Linked DNA regions of Homo sapiens: all the other regions are linked to region 3. The links come from fine-mapping of genetic effects on gene expression. A gene starts in region 3. Each other region holds a variant in brackets. All regions are shown on one strand. Distances are between the middles of the regions.

Region 1 (5,156 bases), 80 kb after region 3:
TCTCCAAATACCGTCACATCGGGGATTTAGGGTTTCAACATATGAGCTTCAGGGGGACACAAACATTTGGCCCACAGCAGATAACAGTATAGTTGGAATAAGTATACATATTGAAAGACTTAATTGCTGAAATATGCTTTTCTTTGAAATTTCCAGGTGGTGGGGATTCTCGTAGGCTTGGGCATCATTGCCTTGGTTACTTCACCCTTGTTACTCCTGGCCTCCCCATGTATAATCTGTTGTGTCTGCAAGTCCTGTCGGGGCAAGAAGAAAAAGCACGACCCATCCACAACCTAAAGATCTCTGTGTTCATACGCCCCAGATATGTGAGTTACATGAGATGGCACAGTGATAAAGCCCCATTTAGTGACCTTGCCTCCTTCTCCTTGCCAACTTTGAAAGTGCCTCCGTGTCCAGACTTTGAACTTGCCTGCCAGCCTTCAGCATCAGGAAAGGCCAAGTCCTGGGTGTGAGTGTTCCTGTGTAACAAGAACTGGGCTCAACGGTCCAGCTGTTTCTATGGAGCTTTGGGGTTCCTTGAGATGAATGAACATATCATTTTATCATCCAAAGGATCTCACTGGACTGTTCAACTTCCAGCCAAATTCAAGGAGCTTGCGGGAACATTTGATATAACAAATGTGTTGTCATTGTTGGCAACATACAAGATAACCAAGAAGCTGGAGTCTGTTCTGTGTTGATTTGACTGCCATGAGAAACACAGGGGAAACCTGATGAGGAGAAGGATAAGACTGCGTAAGGAGAAATCCTCATAGGAGCTATAAAGCAGGCTGCTGATCTCAGCAGTTGATATGGTGGTTGTGCCTCTGCTGGCTACTGGGTGTGCTGTCCCCATGTTCCCGCTGTGATTTGGCAGAAACACAATAGGCTTCTCCTTGTGTGATCTCAGCTTCAAGCAGGTGAAACTGCTGTGCAGAGGGAGTTGCCCCTTCCCAGTAAAAGAGTTGCAGCCTGTTAAACAATGTGGTCTAATTTAGTGTCTCTCCCTTGGCAAATGTAAGTTTTCTAAGTTGGCCAACTTGTCTCTTACAGCCAGTGGCTGTGGTCTACAGAATTGTTTCATATAAAATACGGGTAGAGTGGTAGAGTTTCAAAACTTTCGTCATAGATATCTGGGACCTTTCTCAGGATCTGTGTTCACACAGCCAATAGATTTGGAATCAGGCCTAAGAGTACACATGGAGGGTAAATATTAAAGTGCGTATTATGTACATCTAGAATCCATGTGACTTGCAGCCTACCTGTAATTTCTATCCATTGAGCATGCATGGATATACCCAATAGTACACACAAAATAAATGTTTACTTAAGAGCCATTCTATCCTTTTGTGACTGAAATGGTTTATTGTAAATCTGCCTAAAGATTTTTTGCATATTATATATGTGAATTTTGGTTGTAAGTTCATAACTTACCCAAGGGTATAGACTCATAACTCTTTTAAAACAGTGCTTAGTACAATATCCTGCCATCTCTGTAAAAACGCTAATTGATAACCGAGTCATTTACATGTTTTCGAACACAGAATAGCTCTTTTCTCAGCATCATTATTGCTCTTTCAGCATCTGTTAGGACAGTCTGAATACTTTCTGTTTCAAGGCACTGATAAAACCGCAACAAAAACATGTAAGAAATAAAATAGAAATGCTTTATATAATTTAGTTTAAATTTATGTATCACCTCATTGTGACTTATTTTTTCCATTATACCATTAGTCAGATTTGAATAACGAGGTTTTGAAAGGATAAAACCTTTTCTCCAATGACAGGATTATATAATTGCTATTGGCAATGTAGCCTGGTGCTTCATGAGACCTATGCTAAATGTTACTGGAGAGTTCTTGAAGCCAGGGATACCATATCAGGAACTATTCAGGATCTATGATATTTTCTGAGGTAACTGGGTAATAGAATATCAAATTGCTGCTATCTCGGACCTATTGTTAAAGGATGATGCTTTGCCTATGTAATAGGATATATCCTAAGTGGGGATGTGTATATTTCAGGAACTTTAATTCACAAGTATATATTGATATCTGATGTGTGTATAGTACATCTGTTGGTTATGTACATTTTAATTTACATGTTGTGTAGAACATAGATGAGAACTCTGGGAAAACTTGGGAATGGCAACCAACCAAAATCATTTTTAATCATTTATTAGAAATTTCTCAATATTGTGTCTTTTTCTTTTGAAACTCTAAACACTTCAGAAAAAAA[C/A]ACTATCAGTGTAGTTCATGTTAGTATAATTATAGATTTACATATATTTGAATAGTTAATTTGCTTTGTTTTACACGTAGCCCACTGCCTCATTATAGGTAAAAGGCATTTATAACTGCTCAGGGGATTACGAGAACTCAACTGAAACTGAATTTTTGTAACAAGAATGTTAATAGTGGCAAAGTCCTCTGTCAGTAAACTCTTTAAGCTTGGTGCTGCAAAGAGTCTTTAAATGGGGGCTGATTTCAAGTAACCTAAAAGACTGTGTTATCAGAGGAAGAGGTCCCAAATTTGGAGTAAAGATGGGAGAAAATAAATATGTGCTATTTCCTTGGCGAGTTGAGGGAATTTGCCACCTTACAGAGTTTGTATCACTGAATTAGCTGCTTTTGTTTTTTTTTTTTTTTTTTTGCCAGGGCTATGGAGTGGGGGTTGTTTGTCAAACTGATTTTCAATAATTGGATTTAATTTTTTTTAACATTGAAAAGTGCCTGAAAAATGGTAAATTCTTAAATGTGTGTGAGATTGTCAGAATCAACAAAACTAGGTTGGTTAAACATATCTCTGGTACATCAAGGGGCATGATACAAACCAGTCTAAAGACTGTTTATAAAGGAGAGAGCTGGCGACTTATTTTTATTTTTATTTTTTGGACAGAGTCTCCCTTTGTCACCCAGGCCGGAGTGCAGTGGCATGATCATGGTTCACTTCAACCCCTACCTCCTGGGCTCAAGTGTTCCTCTCACCTTATCCTCCTGAGCAGCTGGGACTACAGGCACACACCACCACACCTGGCTAAGTTTTGTATTTTTTGTAGAGATGGGGTTTCTCTGTGTTGCCCAGTCTTGTCTCAAACTCCTGGGCTCAAGCGATCCACCCACCTTGGGCTCCCAAAGTGTTGGGATTACAGGTGTGTGTCACTGTGCCTGACAGCTGACAGTTTTAACTGACAACTTTGATAACAGAGGCTGCTATTTTTGTTTTAGATAATTGGCCAGTGACAGAGTTTACCCTTGCCTCCTTTCTTGGTCTGCCAGCTTTGTCCTTTCTGAGTGATTCTCTTTCTGTATTGAGAGGAAGTGTGGGTCTACATAGGGATGTTTGGATGCTATGGCAAGAATCTTTTTGTGTTTGGAGTGTAGTCCATTTGCAATAGAAATAAAAAAATCCGTCACCAAATTGTAACCTGGATGTTATAGCCCAGCATCTAGAAATCCTATGAAACGTATTAGCACAATATCTTGCCATTGTCCCATCTAGGAAATTTTTTCTTGTTGTGAGGTAGGGAAGTGAGGAGGAAAGCCATGCCGAAGCAAATGTTAGAATCTTAGGCATCCTATTTGTTCATGCCATGGGTATTTGCTTTGGACTTGGAGTCTGTACTTTGAAAGAGGCCTTTGAAAAACAAATAATTCTGTGTGAATTTTCTTGTAGCGTGCTTCATGAAAATATCTACTTATCCAGGTTTGCAAATGTACATGTTCATTTGAATGTAAATCACCATTTCTTGGAACCCCACGTTTTTTCTTAAAAATTATTCTGAATTAAATGTATATTTCTTTAGCCTTCCCTACACAGTACTAATAAAAGACTTTTCTTTCTGTTCATGAATGGATGCCTTTATGTGATATAGAGTCATGTGTGTATGTGTAGCTTTAAGGGCAATTTCAGAAATGCATTAGATGAATGACATTTTATAAAGCGATCACAATTGATATCTACAGGCTATTATGTCTCATGTTGATTCATGATCCAGGAAGTTTTATGTATTTAAAAAATTGCTATCGTGTTATATTTTTCCAATTTTTGGAGAAGAAAATAGCTGTTTAGGCTCTCTAGCCACAATAAATGTAAGCAGGAAATCAAGTGTGTTAACCTTTGTTGCGCTGCACAATTCTAGGCATGTTCAGTTTTATCCTTTGAGAACCAACCAAGTTACTGTTAAATCCTAGGTTCTGAATTTACAAAATGTACCAGAATTTGCAATACCATCTATGGAAATAACTCTTGGCTACTTTACTTCTTAAAAGAAATAGGGTCAGGGGGTCAGGTGTGGTAGCTCACGCCTATAATCCCAGCACTTTGGGAGGCCAAGGTGGGCGGATCACCTGAAGTCGGGAGTTCGAGACCAGCCTGGCCAACATGGTGAAACCCCGTCTCTACTAAAAACACAAAAAATTAGAACCCTGTCTCTACTAAAAATACAAAAAAAAAAAATTAGCTGGACATGATGGCACATGCCTGTAGTCCCAGCTACTTGGGACGCTGAGGCAGGAGAATTGCTTGAACCTGGAGGTGGAGGTTGCGGTGAGCCAAGATTGTGCCATTGCACTCCAGCCTGGGCAGCAAGAGCGAAACTCGGTCTCAAAAAAAAAAAAAAGGGGGTGGGGGGGTGGCAAGTGTAATGCCTTTGTTACACACTTTCTTCTTTGTAGGTGTGATAGTCCACACTGCCAGTGCATAGGAACTCATCATTATCCAGAGCAATAACCAATAATACAGATCTTTGATCATTCTAATAAAAAATGCTGCCAAGTGTCAAAGCCATTTGTTCTGTACAATAAAGGTTGGACTAAACGCTAAGGTCAGTTCTAACCTTCCAAAAGTCTGCTAGAGGCATGTGTTTCCTTGTTATGATTTTTTAAGAAAGGATTTAAGAGTGTTAAGGTCATTTCCATTTGAATTAGTATTCGAGGCAGGTCTTAAGTTGGGTGCCAAAGATTACTTAACAACTAGAGCTTGTGTTTCCATAAAACCGAAAGCTCACTCTCCTGTACTGGTGTTGAAACCTTTTTATTGAAGGCTGGATGCTTCTAAAATGGTACCTGCATACAAAGGTTTACAACTGATGTACAATTCAAATTTCATTTTCTAATCATTCAGTTTTGAGGAAATCAATAAGATCATTTAAAAATACT
Region 2 (5,156 bases), 25 kb after region 3:
TGCCAAAGTTTAATTCTTCAAACCACATATCAGAATGTAATAGGCTGGCCAAACATGCAAATCATGACCAGAGAGCAGGCAAAAGTTGGTTTCTGATGAGAGAACTTTTCCATTGTTGCCACTAAGTCACCAAAGTTTATGTATTTCTTCTTTTGAAGTTGCACCCTTATTCCAATATTCTCTAAGTCTATTCCCACCTTTGTCCAGACTCTACTGATCCATTTGGTACTAGTGTGTGCCAGGCATGGTGTTAATTGTGGAGCAAGTGGCAGTCATCAGACACAACCAGCCCTGCTGTTATGTGGGCAGTAGACCCTCTGATAAAGGAAGTACAATATGTTATAAAGCATACAGAAACCCACCTAAAATAGACTCAGGGAGGTAGGAGGTTTCCTAAGGGCTGAGACTGAAAGATAATAGGGATTGCTTGATGGCATTGTTGATGGGGCTGTGGGTGAGAACAGTGCTCCAGGGAAAAGAGGCCAGCCACATGTGAGAACACAGAATCAGGGAAGAGTGACCTGCTGAGGAACCAAACCGGAAGATGTTCCTGGGACACATTGTTGGAAGTGTGGGTGTGCTCAGGCAGGAGGCCAGAGAGGCAAGCAGAGACTAGATGGAGGGCCTGGTATGCTGTGTTAAAAAAACATTATGGAGCCACTGGAAGGCTTTGTTTGGGAATGAGATAGGGAGGATGGCGTCGGTACAGGATAGAGAATGGACTGAAAGTGGGCAAGGCTGGAGCAGGAGGAGGGAACCATGGCAGGCTGAAGCAGAGCTCGGAGAACAATGTCCTTATCAACTTAGGATACATGTGTATGGCAGACTGCAGTTTTGATGCCTGGAGTATTTAAATTATTTTTGTGCCCCAATTTCTCTTTTTTCCTATCCATTTGGGATACTGTCAGCTTTCTTTTCTTTTTTTTTCTTCTTTTCTTTTCTTTTTTTTTGAGACGGAGTCTCATTCTGTTGCCAGGCTGGAGTGCAGTGGCGTGATCTCTGCTCACTGCAACCTCCGCCTCCCGGGTTCAAGCAGTTCTCCTACCTCAGCCTCCTGAGTAGCTGGGACTACAGGCACGTGCCACCACTCCCAGGGAATTTTTGTATTTTTAGTAGAGACGGGATTTCACCATGTTAGCCAGGATGGTCTCGATCTCCTGATCTTATGATCTGCCTGCCTCGGCCTCCCAAAGTGCTGGGATTACAGGAATAAGCCACCGTGCCCAGTGAAAGTACATTTTTAAAAATCATGGCTAGTACTCATAGAAGAAATAGGACCCTAAAGTACAAAATAATCATGTTTCAGGGCTCTCTTGGTTTATTACATTGAAGATAATTTTTAATTATAAATGTAACACATGCTAATTTAAAAATAAACCAAAAAACCTCAAAAAGCATGTGCATGATTCATATATATATATATATATATATATATATATATATATTTTTTTTTTTTTTTTTTTTTTTTGAGACGGAGTTGTGCCCTGTCGCTCAGGGTGGAGTACAGTGGTGTGATCTCGGCTCATTGCAATCTCTGCCTCCTGGGTTCAAGTGATTCTTCTGCCTCAGCCTCCCAAGTAGCTGGGATTACAAACATGCGCCACCGCACCCAACTAATTTTTGTATTTTTAGTACAGAGGGGGTTGGCCAGGCTGGTCTCGAGCTCCTGACCTCAGGTGATCTGTCCACCTCAGCCTCCCAAAGTGCTGGGATTACAGGCGTGAGCCACCACGCCCAGCCCACCTGTACTTTCTTCTAGACTCTTTCCCTGTGTACTTACGCACATCACTTAATAGAGAAATGGGATCTTTAACTACAGATACTTTTAACTTGAGTTTTACAAACATAGTACATTGTGGACAAGTTTCTGTGCAAAAATATACAGACCAACCTTCCTTTTTAAGTATTGTATAGTGTTCTATGATATGGTTGTATGAAAATTTATTTAACTGGGCCCCTCCTAAATAATGGATTTTAAGGTTGTTTCTAGTTTTTGCTATTATGAATACATTTTTTTTACTTATATAAATGTGAAAATACCTGTCCTTAGGATAACTTTTTAGAAATAGAATTGCCTAACCAAAATAGATGTACATTTTAAATCAGTATGTGTTACCAAATTACTGTTCCAAACTGTTGCACCAGCTTGGCAACTCCACCAACAGAGTAGGAACAGAGGCCTCTCTTTTGACACTCCGGGTATTTTCCAACTTTTCACCTTCTGTAATCTGGTATGTGAAAAGAACATATCTCATGGTTTAATCCATACTTCCTCTTTTTAGGAGGAAGCAAATTGTTGTAAGAGAAGCTCATCTCATGAATCTATCTTTAAAAAACATACAGTATGCTCAGTGCCAGTATAGTTTCAACTGATTTTATACCTTGGTATTAATAGTAATCAAGTTAGAAAAAAATGGGCCATATCTAGAAAAGTATATTACACATAGAAGACATGAATGAATGAAAAAATGGTGGTGTTCAGACTGAGGGAGATGCCTTATCACACAAAAAAATTCATGTCCAGTGACAAAATGTTACTAAGTAGGTAAAGGAGGTTTAAAAAATTTAGGCAAGTTGAAAAAGGGTGGTGAGTTAACTAGAAAATTCAGTTTTTTAAAATCCCATTTTCTGTATATTTCAGTTCATTAAAGATTGGTTATATAAGGCTTATCTATGTGGATTCCAGATATGCAGTGTACCCCTTGGAATCAGGTGAGACACAGTGCCTCATTTCCATGGAA[A/T]TACATGGCTCTGTGTTAACTGAAAGCCTCCATGGTTTTGAATCATTTCCCACCCACAGTAAGGAGGTCTTTTTGGTTTGACTCTTCTGGAAAATATGTGTGAGGTATTTACTACATGAATGTAGGGTATTTTTTCAATCTGCTTAAACCTCATTTTATTCATCTGTTTAAAAAAATTACGGAAGGAAAAGCAAGGGCATTTGAGTACCTTTCATATAATATGTAATATGCAAGGGTACTATTTTTTCCCCCATTTACTCTTCCAGTTTACAGATAAACCAATTCAGAGTTAAATAACTTGCCCAGGATCTGTAATGTTAATCCCTACATCATAGTGTCGTTTGGAAGAAATAAAAACAAGCTCTGTGAAAATATATAATGTATGGCCTAGCACATAGTATGTGGTTCCTAAATTTTTTTTGTTAGCATGAAAATGGATGAAGGCCCATATTTGGCTTTTGTGATCTTAACCTGAAATGTCTAAAGCTTGACAATAGCCTATAAAATGCAAAATTGACAACTGGCTACTGATTTTATATACGTAAAAGTTTAGTCAGTACAAAACAAATGTAAAGAACTACTGGTTTAAAAAATCCAAGGAGTTTTTCAGAGAACAGAAAGTATGTAATCAGAATATAGTGGTGGCCATGGCCTCATATTAGAGATTGAGCATGAACATGAGTGTTCTGTGAACTTTCCACTGTGTGATTTCGGGTAAGTTATTTGAGGAAACCAAGGCCGAGACATTCAGAGGTCTGATTTACACAACTGGAAGTTCCCAGTGCATTTAGCATATTTTCAGATGTTGAAACTGAAGTCAAGGTTCAAGGCCAGGCATTCTGCCTCAATGACTGATGTTCTCCCACCCTCCAGGCGCATTGTGTCTGTGGAAGTTACTGGTGTTCTTAAGAGGACCTCAGTCTGACGGTTGTTTCCAAGTGATTCTTCTGTGTTGAGGGTGTTTAATGCATGGGTTACTGCAGAGCACAGAGACCTTTTCTGCAAATGGAAAAAAATATTATAGCTTAACATCTGCTTTCCCTAGGTAATGTGTTAATTAAAGATTGTTTTAATATGGAATGATGTCTAGCCTTTGAAAAACTTTATCTTACGGTTTATGGTATTGATAACCTTCAGAAAAGGAAGACTGGTTCAAATTATGTCAATTAATATGAAAAAAGCCCACTCAATATGAAGCCCCTTGACTTCTAAAAACTTGCTTTTTAGAAAATGTTAAAAAAAATTCCAGGTTTTGCAGGATAAATCCTCGGGGGAATATTGTGAGGTGAGGAATAGTCGTGGTCTTGATGCAATGTAACTTATAATTAGAAAGATGCTGATTTTGCTGTGGAGTCATTGAATATCATTATTTCAAAATAATTTTGAATAAAATGAGATTTCTAATAACCAACCTAGTCATTGTCCAACCTTTTCTACTTTTTCAGAGTTCAGTTCTCTTAAATCTAAGAGATTCTCTTTTGTAATGTAGCTCAAGAGGAAGTTTAAGGGTTAGGTCTATTCTTAACTGATGTCCCTTGTTCCTATCATTCCATGTATAGAAATAATATCTTCTTGAGGAAACTGTTAAGCGTCACTCTTTCCCAACTTTTGGGTCATTAATATGAGCTATTTTGCATGCTGGCTTTGTAGGTTATATCCTGTAGGAAAAAATGTTGGTGATGAGTTAGCTTTATTCTGTCACTTATACAGTGTTAATATTCTTTTAAAATTTCAAAAATTCAGATAGTTATTAATATTGCTACCACTAGTTTTATTTAAAAATGTTTTAATTTGTATAGATACGTAGTAGGTATATATATGATTAGTTTTAATTAAGATATTATTTCATTATAATTTATTCAAACTGGTTTAAATACTGAGACAGATTTTATTTAAAATATAGGATTTCTGCTTTTAAGCAGTATTAAAATCTGAGATTTGATGAATGGTATAAATTTTATCTTTTGCTTTTAGTTTTAAAATATTGTACAACATCCTGTTTCTATTCTTGAAGGTGAAAAAGAACAAAAACTTTTAAAAAGATGGAAAAAATTGTACAACAGTTTGTTATGAAACAAGATAAAGATTTTTACAACAAATACCTGTAGAGTTATCCCTTGGTATCTTCAGGATATTGGTTCCAAGCCCCTTCCCACTCCCCACCCCAAAGATACCCAAATTCATGAATGCTCAAGTCCCTTATATAGAATGGTGTAGTATTTGCATGTAACCTATGTACATCCTCCCATATACTTTAAATCATCTTTAGGTAACTTATAATATCTAATACAATGTAAATCTATATAAATGGGTTTTCTACTGTATTTTTTGTGTATTTCTTATTGTGATTTTAAAAATATATTTTCTGTCCGTGGTTGGTTGAATCCATGGATGTGAAATCTGAGGACGGGGGGC
Region 3 (5,156 bases):
CTCCCTGAGGGCTCCCCAGCCATGCTTCCTGTGCAGCTGCAGAACCATGAGCCAATTGAACTTCTTTTCTTTATAAATTACCCAGTTTCAGTTATTTCTTTATAGCAATGTGAGAACAGATTAATATAATCACCTTCTCAGAGAAGACTTGATTCTTTTCATCAACTCCTTTCCTTTAAATTCTTCTTCTCTGTGCTCCCAATAGCACATCATGCTTAAGTCTATCATATCACACATTATGTATCACTCACACATTGGGTACAACTATCAGTACCCTGATAATTGATTTGCTTGTCTTACTCCTTCCCTGGATTGAGAGGTCTTTGAGGACAGGGAGACCATGTCTAATATCATTATCTTAATACAACCTAGCAGATTGTCTGGGAGGAAATCAATAAATGCTCCAGAGAATGAATATCCATTCACACTGTAGACTCCTTAGGAAGATCTGAGAGAGTTTGTTCACATAATATTATAGCATTCAACGTGTTTATTTAGTCTTATTAAATTTTGACTGCAATTTAAAAAAAATTTGCATAGTTGCATGGTTGAAAATAATCAGTGGTGATGTTACTCAGTTGTGCAAAATATTTGGGATAATAGGCAGCACTATTCGTGCTTATGTTCTCATTCATATTGGCAGCAGCTTCTTCCCTTATCCTGTTAACAAGAGATTATAATTTATGAATGGTAATTTGAAAAGTGGACTCTGTGTTGAACTTTGGTTTAAGGCTCAGGAGATTTGCATCAACACCAATGAATAAACTAACCTCTTAGAGGTTGCTTTTTATCTTTCCTAGTTCCTGTCCACCAAAATGGTCACTATACCAAGAAAATTCCTTGAAATAGATTATCTCAGAACCTAAGCCATTGCTAAATCTGAAGGTTGGACTTCCTTTGGGATGGTTTTCATTTACATTCACCTTCCTCATGTAACTCAGATTTAGGTCTCATTCTAGCTTGGCCTGTGTCTGGTTTGGGCCAATCTCTTAAATCTTCCTGGACATCAGTTTCCTTATTTTTTTTTTTTTTTTGAGACAGAGTTTCGCTCTTGTTACCCAGGCTGGAGTGCAATGGCGCAATCTCGGCTCACTGCAGCCTCTGCCTCCCAGGTTCAAGCGATTCACCTGCCTCAGCCTCTCGAGTAGCTGAGATTATAGGCACCCACCACCACGCCCAGCTAATTTTTTGTATTTTTAGTAGAGACGGGGTTTCACCATGTTGGCCAGGCTGGTCTTGAACTCCTGACCCCAGATGATCTGCCCGCCTTGGCCTCTCAAAGTGTTGGGATTACAGATGTGAGCCACCGCACCCAGCCCAGTTTCCTTATTTTTAAAATCAGGTTATTTGCTAAAATAGCTAGGAAGACTTTTCAAGCTCAAATATCCTACCGTGGGTTCTTTTATCATCTTATTGCCCCTGTCCTTTTTCTCTTCCTCCCTGACTGGTGAGCTGGTCCTCCTACCTGCCCTAGCATGGCACATGTAGATACACTGTGTTATTCAGCACTTTGCTTTGACCTAGAGGTTTTCTTCAACTTGGAGGGCTGAGAAGCAATGTTTGCTTGTGTCGTTTGGAATGGTGCCTGTTGGCGTGCACAGATCCTTTCCACAAAGGGCCTGTGAGTCCCTTCCTTTTAGGAAGCACATTCCTGACAGTGGTTGCAAAAGTAGAGAGGGATTGCAGAGTGAACACAGATTCTTGTGTCAGAGCGACATTCCTAAATGGCAATGTTCAGCAGACTTAGGTGATTGTGATCTATGGGGGATATGGGGAATGAGTAGGTATGCGATTCATTATGAATGTCACACAAATGAAGTGTCCAAGGGTTTGGAGCAAGGAAGCACTTCATAATACCTCACAGCTTCTGGATTATTTTGTTACATTTTTGTTTAATTGAGGGTACAACCAGTTAAGTTACAAAGCACTTCAAGTGAAATCATTGTTTCATCAAGAAGTGTCTGTATTTTATGAGGTAAACTAAGATTATTCCCGATTTGATTCACAGGTATTCTAATTTCATCATTAGATGCAAAAGGACAAGTGAGGTACAAGCTGTTTTTTGATGAGATGTGCATGGGAAGTGTTTCTATAAAACAGTTGTCTGCCACGTGGGAAGGCAGGTCTGGGCTGTTAGAAGTAGAAGAAAGAGATTTAAAGAGCTGGGAAGGAGGGAGAAAATAAAGAAAGGTGGCCTGTGAGGATATGTACAGACAGAGAGGTAGCAGGCGCTTAAGGCCAAGAGGTGAGCTGTCCCTGTCTGGGCAGAAGAAGTGCGCTAGGGGCAGCTGCCTGCACCCCCTGCTCTGAATTCCTGCAACAGCGGTCCCAGGAGAACAAGAGACAGGTCCTGACAAGCAGTAGAGTCGGTGCAGCGCGCCCGGGTTCGGATAGGGTTAAGGCCAACACCTGCAGCTGAAGTACGACCCACATGGGAAGTAGGAAGTGCGGCGCCTGAGCTTCCTGTATAAATAAACGCGCTGCTACCGCTGCTGGCGAGCTGTGCCCCACGCTCCCGCTGCAACAGTCCCGGGCATCGCAGCTGCCAGTCAAGGCTAGGAGGCGGTCGGGGACTCCGCCTCCTCCCGACCCGTAGGTCTGGGAGCGCAAGTCCTGTTGCAGTCTTGCAAAGTGTAAAGCTGTCAGCCGCAGAGCACGGAGGAAAGACGGAGAGAATGGAAGAGCTCCTGTCCGGTGTGCCAGCAGCCCGGACTGGCGGTGAGCGCGAGGGAGGCTACTGAGAAGCCCGGCGACGGAGGAACGCAGGTCTGCTGCCAGGTAGGTTTAGCGAGCTTTTTAAAGGCTACAGGCGTTGCAAGACCGGAATGGTGTTGCTGGACTAAGGAAAAAGGACAGGAAACTCACTGTGACACCACAATTTTTCGATTTTCTGTCTCTAGTGCTCAAACCATACAGAACTGAATTCATTCTGAATGCCTTAAACACCTGTTAACTTAGAAGAAAAATGCCTTTGTTAAAGGAAAGTAGTTTCATTTCTAATAAAACAGTTTCTATAATAGAATGTATTGTAGAATCCGAGATTAGACCAGACCTCTCCCTAGGTCTTAAGGGGAGACCAAAAGTTGGCATAATCTCGGATTATGCATTATAGTGCTTATTTTATCAGGTAATTGCTAATGAAACAGTGAAACTCTGATACTACGAGAGCCATTCTCAAATTTAAGTTAAAATCGAACTGATTGTCGTTTGTGCAGGGAAAAGGTAGGTATCTTTTGCTTATTCTTTCTAAAACACCTTTTGTTTTTCTCATGAGTTTCAAGGATCCTGCTGTAAGTCTACTCCTCATGCATATACACTATTCACATAAAGATTTCCCAGAAATTAATTCCCTTCTCTGGGAAATGTTCTTTTTTCATGTTCTCATAACAGACTGTCAGTTTCATATTGCTTTCTGCCACATGTATCTTATCAAAACATTAGCTCTGAGGTTCTTAACAGGACTATCTCTGCTCTTCCGATTTGGCATTTCTGGACGTTTATTTGAACATTGAGAGGTATAAATTAAATGGCAATGTATCTAACATTTCTGAGGAAGCAGATTAGGGGGTGTCTGTGCCCAGAAGCAAAATAAATGAACTTTGGGATGACTCAGTTTTTAGGGTGTGGGTAAGAGGCAAAAGGAACCTAGCCAGTCCTAACTGAGTTGCTGGCTAATTAGAGTATCTGTCTGCCGCAGCTTTCACTGAAATGAGCCTCTTGGTCCCTTTCACATCAAATCCCTCTGTGAGTCCCTCCTTCTCCTTAGTTTATCTTTCCTTCACAACCTGGGTCCTTTTCATGGACAGCAGTGCCTTAAATACTTCTAAAACTATCCTGAGGGGGAGAAAAACCTATAGCAGATCCACAAAGCCACTTGTAGATAATTGTATTATGAAATCCAAGGTCATGGTTTCACACAACTCCTGCTCTGCCCTTGCACACCTTTGACTGGCATTTTTTTTTTTATTTTTGTCGTGGGCATAAACTTAGAAAAGTGGGAAAGGGAAAAACCTCAGTTTCAAAAGTAGTCTCTGACTAATTAATTATCTTGATTAAAAAAAGGTAAACATATATAGTGAACGTGAAAAAGATGTTGAGTAGTAGAATTGGGTTGCTTGGCTTTTTATTTAAAACAAACAAAACTCAACCAAAAAAACCCCCCAAAACCCCAAACAATCACCCTAGATAACTTTCTCCTACACTACTGTGCTGGAAGTCGGGCTTGAGTGTGGTCAAATCCTGCCCATTTACCCAGAGTTTTACAAATATTTACAGTCATCTATGCCAAATATCTTTGTGCTGAGTCCCAAAGAACATTCTCAGCATTCAAAAGGCCCATTCTCATGAATGGTTTCAGTTCATTGGCAATTTAAAGGCATTCAGGCTTCCAAACTAGGTCAGCTTAAGACATGTCTTTTTAAAATAATCAGTTTTTGGGTCTCAGATTATGAACCAGGTTTTTGGAGCCAAACTCTACAGCAGAGAGAAGAGTATGCTCTCTCTGGAAAGAAAAAGCTTATTTTATCTACCTGGTATGACCATTTAACTTCCTGAAAAACGTCTTTCTCCTCAGTAGTATGAATATTTTTCATCTGAGGAGGTGCACTTAAAATTTCCTTCTTGAAAAGTCATTTCAATATTTTAGACGTTTAGAAACATTTATATGTATGTCAGAATCCTTTCTCCGAAGTGTTTCTGCTAATCCTGGCTTCTTTGTTTCCCCTGGCCTTGACTTTATGACATTACTTTCTTGGAGAGTGAAGTTTTTAGTGTTTGAAATCTCCAGTTTGAGATAGAGGTCAGGAATCATGCTGAACCCAGATGTTACTGAAGGAACAAAGTCTGAGCAGTTTTGGGACTAAGCCTACTTTGTACAACTGATTATTTTGGATGTGGGAAAAGGGCCAAGCTGCCAGACAAGTCATGCTTTTCACTTGGACTTTGGGGAATAGGTATCTGTAGCCATTGCTCCTAAGTACTGAAACATTTCTTTCAGGGGTGCCTACCTTAATTTATAGAAGCTCCTTACCTGAAACAAATGGTCAATATTTTCAGCTTGTGAATTTCTGGAAGTGAATACAGATGAGAACCAGGCCTTTAATATTTTCTCTCCTCCAAGTACAATCAGAAAAGTTATCCACTCTACTACTGAGTGA
Region 4 (5,156 bases), 88 kb after region 3:
AAGCTTGCAACAGCTCATTGAGTCTTTCTCATACTTCAGACCTCTTTGGCTTCCTCTTCTGACACATCTCTGGCTTCCATTTTACATTTTAATGGCTACGAGAGTATGTATATTTGTCATTTTCAAAAGGAAATTTAGCTTTTTAAAATCTGTTCTGTTTCCCAGCCCCATGAAGGCAAAGAGTTTTCACAGGTAATAGAATCTGCTTGAAGACATCACAAACTTGGGGAAGAGTTAGCAAAATCTAACTTCTACCTGGGAACTGTTGACTTACCGTTGGAATTGGGTCTAGTATAGCCAAGGAGATCAGCAATTCTGCTTCTGGCTAGTGTCCTTGGGAGGTCCATTTGGTCTATATGTGGGACAGATTTTCTTAAATGGACTCAGAAGAAAACCTGATCTGAGCTTTCTAAACAAACCTTCAGAAGATTCAGGATTGGATTGAATCTTGTTTTGGATTCAGGAAGGACAACTCTTTTAAGAGCTGGCTTAAAGTACAGGATGGTGTTTCCATTCAAGTCAGACCAGTAAAGCAGATGGATCTGAGTTAACCAGTCACTGCCTGTTGTTGAGGGACGTGCAACAAAAGTCAAGGTCATTGCCTCTTCCCCTCTCCCACCCCCAGTGCAGCAATACAGACCCGGCCAGATGCTGTAGATGTTTTAAACTAGCATAGCCATGCTTTTGACTAGAAATGAAAGACTGGAGGGAAGTTTGATAGCTCTCCTAGTCTCTTGTGGACAAGTTACAATTTCTCTTGGCTTCGGTTGCCTCATCTAGAAAATTAGGAAGTAACTGTTTTCTAGGTTCAGTACAAACCTAACATTTTGACTAAGATGGAAAAAACCTCCAGCCCCCTCTGTGAGCTCTATATGCATGAAACTAGTTAGCTCAAGGGAAATTCTCCTTCTTAGACAAAGTAATCCTCAGAAGCAGCTTCCAGATGCTGTTATGGATAATGCCAGAAGCATATGAAATATATTGCCAATTTACTTAAAATGAGCAAATTCAAAGAGTAGTGGTTGAACCTCATGGTTTATCTACAGCTCTTGGTGGCTAAAAAGACCTATAATCAAAGTTGCTTGGGGAATTTCCAGGGACATGTTTCTTCTAGTACCTATACAAAAAATATCAGGACCTCACTCTCCTTATTTGAAGCACACCATGGATTATTATGAGTGTGTTAGTCTAAGGGGCTTGTTATTAATTTTTTTCAGTATACATTGTATTTTCTGCAAATTGAGTTAAATTTAAGGTATATATATTGATAGCATATAGGATAGTATATATGCATGTATGTTTGTGTGAATGAGAAGATAAATAGGCACATCGACTTTGTTAACAAAATTTTTATTCAGTCTTTAATGAATTCGATTTTCAAAAGTAGAACACAAAACTACTTGTGAACTTTGAAAAACGGTAAATAAAGAAATAAGTTAATTAAAAAAACAAGTTAATTAAATATTCAAAGAATGCTTTAAAAGTTTTAAGAGTGGTCATACTAAAACTCAGTCCTCATATTTACATCTGATATCACAAGTGTGTCATAGCCAAGGAAGTAAAATAAGAACTTGTGGTGGGGCATGGTGGCTCACGCCTGTAATCCCAGCACTTTGGGAGGCCGAGGTGGGCGGATCACTAGGTCAGGAGATCGAGACCATCCTAGCTAACACGGTGAAACCCCATCGCTACTAAAAATACAAAAAAGTTAGCAGAGCGTGGTGGTGGGCGCCTGTAGTCCCAGCTACCTGGGAGGCTGAGGTGGGAGAATGGCATGAACCCGGGAGGCGGAGCTTGCAGTGAGCCGAGATCGCACCACCGCACTCCAGCCTGGGTGTCAGAGCGGGACTTCGTCTCAGAAAAAAAAAAAAAAAAAAAAAAAAAAAACTTGAAAAAAATCTTCAGGTTTAATTTCTTTTACCTACCTTAAGGAAAACAAAAATGTGTGTTGATTGCACCTTAAAATGAAAATGATAAAAATAAGTGGTTGTATTCTTCTCCCACTCCCCATTCATAATCTGCAGGGTATTTCTCAAACAATAAATATCCTCAACTGGTGTAAGAATGTTAATTTACTACTGGAGGGAACAGAAGATGACCTGGAAGCATTGTCCCAAGCTAACTGCTGAGGGCTAGACACTTATTTGAGGTCTCTGGTTTTATTTTTTAATTTTATTGTTCATTTAAACATTCATTAAAAATTATAACCTCCATA[C/T]TATTTTGATTTTAATTAAGTAATTTTGTTTGTAGAGACAGGGTCTTGCTTTGTTGCCCAGGCTGGAGTACAGGGGCACGATCAGGACTCACTGTAGCCTCAAACTCCTGGGCTCAAGCAGCTTCCCACCTCGGCCTCCCAAAGTGCTGGGATTACAGGTGTGAACCACCACAACTGGCCTGATTTTATTTATTTTTATTTTTGAGACAAGGTCTTGCTCTGTCGGCCAGTCTGGAGTGCAGTGGCGTGATGATCTCGGCTCACTGCAGCCTTGACCTCCTGGGTTCAAGTGATCCTCCCACCTCAGCCTCTTGAGTAGCTGGGACTACGGTGCATGCCACCACACCCCGCTAATTTTTTAATTTTTTTGTAAAGACAGAGTTTCACCATGTTGCCCAGATTGGTCTTAAACTCCCGAGCTCAGGCAATCCTCCTGCCTCAGCCTCCCAAAATCCTGGAATTACAGGTGTGAGCCACCAGACCTGGCCTGATTTCATTTTAAAGATTACATTTTAAATTATTGAAGTAAGATTAACTTCTTCTTTTTTCTTTTTTTTTTTTTTTGAAGACAGAGTCTTGCTCTGTCACCCAGGCTGGAGTGCAGTGGCACGATCTCGGCTCACTGCAACCTCCACCTCCTGAGTTCAAGTGATTCTCCTGTCTTAGCCACCCGAGTAGCTGGGACTACAGGCGCACACCACCACACCTGGCTAATTTTTGTATTTTTTAGTGGAGATAGGATTTCACCATATTGGTCAGGCTGGTCTCGAGCTCCTGACCTTAGGTAATCCACCCGCCTCGGCCCCCCAAAGTGCTGGGATTACAGGTGTGAACCACTGTCCCTGGCCAAAATTAACTTCTTAAAGATGCTTTATCTTTGTCTTGTATCCTCCAGTACCCCACAATACCCTGGGGTGTTACATACACCTGTTTGAGAAGCATGAGCAAGTCTACTAGGTTATTTTAATCACCAAACATATATTGAATGCCTTCTTTGTACAAACAAATGTGTCTCAATTAGTTGTTTCAAGTGGCTTAGTTAGGTTTAGGAGAAAGAATACGTTGGTCTACAGAAAAAGGAATGACTGCATTGGGTCATGCCTGGTACATGCCAGGTGATTGGTGTAGACAGGTGCCATGAACCTGTGGAGAAGGAGTGAGATTGTTGGAACTTTTCAATTCACATTTCATGGAGATGATGCTGATCAGGGTGTTGAGAGACAGGATTGTGATCAGCAAGGGCATTACAGAGAGGAGGCATGATGACAACAGTGTGACATGGGGAGTGAGAAATAACTGAATGAAACAGAAATAAAGCACCTGTGGGGTGCAGAAACAGAGAACCTTGAGTGCCAGGCTCCCGTGTTGACAGGTTCTTTTTGGGGTGAGGAGCCATTTCAGGGTTCTGTGCTTGAAGAGTGGGGTGAGGTGCAGTGACTCATGCCCATAAACCCAGCACTTTGGGGGGCTGACATGGGAGGATCACTTGAGCCCAGGAGTTCGAGACCAGCCTGGGCCACATGGCAAAACCTTGTCTCTACCAAAAGTTACAAAAATTAGCCAGGTGTGGTGGCATGCACCTGTGGTCCCAGCTACCTGGAAGGTTAAGGTGGGATGACCACCTGAGCCTTGGGAGGTCAAGGCTGCAGTGAGCCGTGATGGTGCCACTGCACTCCAGCCTGGGCAACAGAGTGAGACCCTGTCTCAAAAAAAAAAAAAAAAAAAAGGTATGTGCAAAGCTACATTTTAGCAGGTTAATCTGACAACAGTCTGTTGGTTAAATTGCAAGGAGAGAAGCTGGAAGTGGCGTGGCCAGTTTGAGGACAGTACTACAATAGTCCAGGTATCATTTAATGAGAGCCTGATCCAGGTTGGTGTCTGCAGGGAATGTCAGGGGAAAGCAAATGAGAAAGATCTTACATAAAACAAAACCAAACCCAATAACACTTTGGTAACTATAGCATCCACCAAACTAGTGCTTTAAAAAAGTTTTCCATTGTAATGTTGTTTTGTACTCGAACATGTTACTGTATTGAATATTAAAACCTCCATAAAATTGCTATCAGTCTTTACTCAGAGCCAGCTTAGAAAGGGTTTCATTAATGTGAGGCTTATTCATAGGACTCACCCTTAAATCATTTTTGGAACAAAGCAGGGAATAAATACAATTACTCATAGGGTATGCTGAAGGAGCAGCCAGATTGGATGCATAAAAACTGAGTGGGAGATGCATTTCTACTTTGTTTTATAACTTTAGTTAATTCTTATGAAAGTAGGGGGTACAGGAGAGTTTCTTAGAGTGATGAATTAATTCATTTAAGAAATGCTTTCAACCCAAATGCCTTCTCCTTTTTGGGGGAAAGCCAGGAGCACTGAAGTACATAACTAGCTTGACAAAGACGGGAAATGGAGTTGAGTTCTGAAAGTGCTTTGAGGAAGTTAATTGACCATGTTGTTTTCATTTACTTGGAAAGAAATTCTCTTTGAAAGTGCATGAGGTGTGTCTTCCCCTCTGCTGCCACTCTGTCTGCTCATAAGATAAACTGATGCAATCTGATGTTATATACTTCCATTTTGTATGTGAAGAACTAAAGCTTGTCACAAAACAACTTAATTATTCTGCTATAATTGATGATTAGCTTGTCCTTATTAGAATATTCTTTTGCCCTATGCCCATGGAAACTTTTTGCTCTCTGTAAGTCTGATAGAGTAGCTGTTAGAGCTCTGCTTAATGTGATTGAACCCAGAGACCTGGGAAGAGAGAGGAGGAACACTGTATTCTGGTCAAATTGGCCTTCTGTTAATCAATATCCATTACTTTAGGAGGGGAAAGAAAGGAGAAGCTGCCTGTCATATGAGAGACAAGCACGGCATTCAATGCAACAAAAAGTGTAAGAAAAGCTCAGCATCCCTAGGTTTCTTGTGTGTTGATCAGTTAACG

Alleles and levels. Positions count from the first base shown, and alleles are read on the strand shown. Sizes are in standard deviations (SD) of each study's normalised expression. Not every link is listed here.
For the expression in fibroblasts of the gene that starts at base 2,498 in region 3, allele T in region 2 goes with a higher level than allele A (moderate effect, 0.45 SD a copy in GENCORD).

What was found. PIP is the estimated chance that this variant, and not a neighbour inherited with it, causes the effect.
Region 1: its variant is fine-mapped to the expression of RNF144B in whole blood (INTERVAL, PIP above 0.99). The same link has a PIP of 0.9 or more in monocytes after LPS.
Region 2: its variant is fine-mapped to the expression of RNF144B in fibroblasts (GENCORD, PIP 0.95). The same link has a PIP of 0.9 or more in neutrophils.
Region 4: its variant is fine-mapped to the expression of RNF144B in whole blood (INTERVAL, PIP 0.98).

Annotation. Positions count from the first base shown.
Region 1 is chr6:18,464,771-18,469,926 of GRCh38, forward strand. RNF144B (ring finger protein 144B) reads left to right here. Exons shown (of 8, transcript NM_182757.4): 8 at 157-4,100. The coding sequence ends at 297. Among named protein-coding and RNA genes, the nearest start is that of MIR548A1HG, 55 kb to the right of the region's middle. The variant C/A (reference allele first, on the strand shown) is at 2,239.
Region 2 is chr6:18,410,054-18,415,209 of GRCh38, forward strand. The region is part of intron 2 of RNF144B (ring finger protein 144B); the gene reads left to right. Among named protein-coding and RNA genes, the nearest start is that of RNF144B, 25 kb to the left of the region's middle. RefSeq lists an enhancer at 4,579-5,156. The variant A/T (reference allele first, on the strand shown) is at 2,742.
Region 3 is chr6:18,384,853-18,390,008 of GRCh38, forward strand. It overlaps RNF144B (ring finger protein 144B), which reads left to right and starts at 2,498. Exons shown (of 8, transcript NM_182757.4): 1 at 2,498-2,778.
Region 4 is chr6:18,473,138-18,478,293 of GRCh38, forward strand. No RefSeq gene overlaps it. Among named protein-coding and RNA genes, the nearest start is that of MIR548A1HG, 47 kb to the right of the region's middle. The variant C/T (reference allele first, on the strand shown) is at 2,216.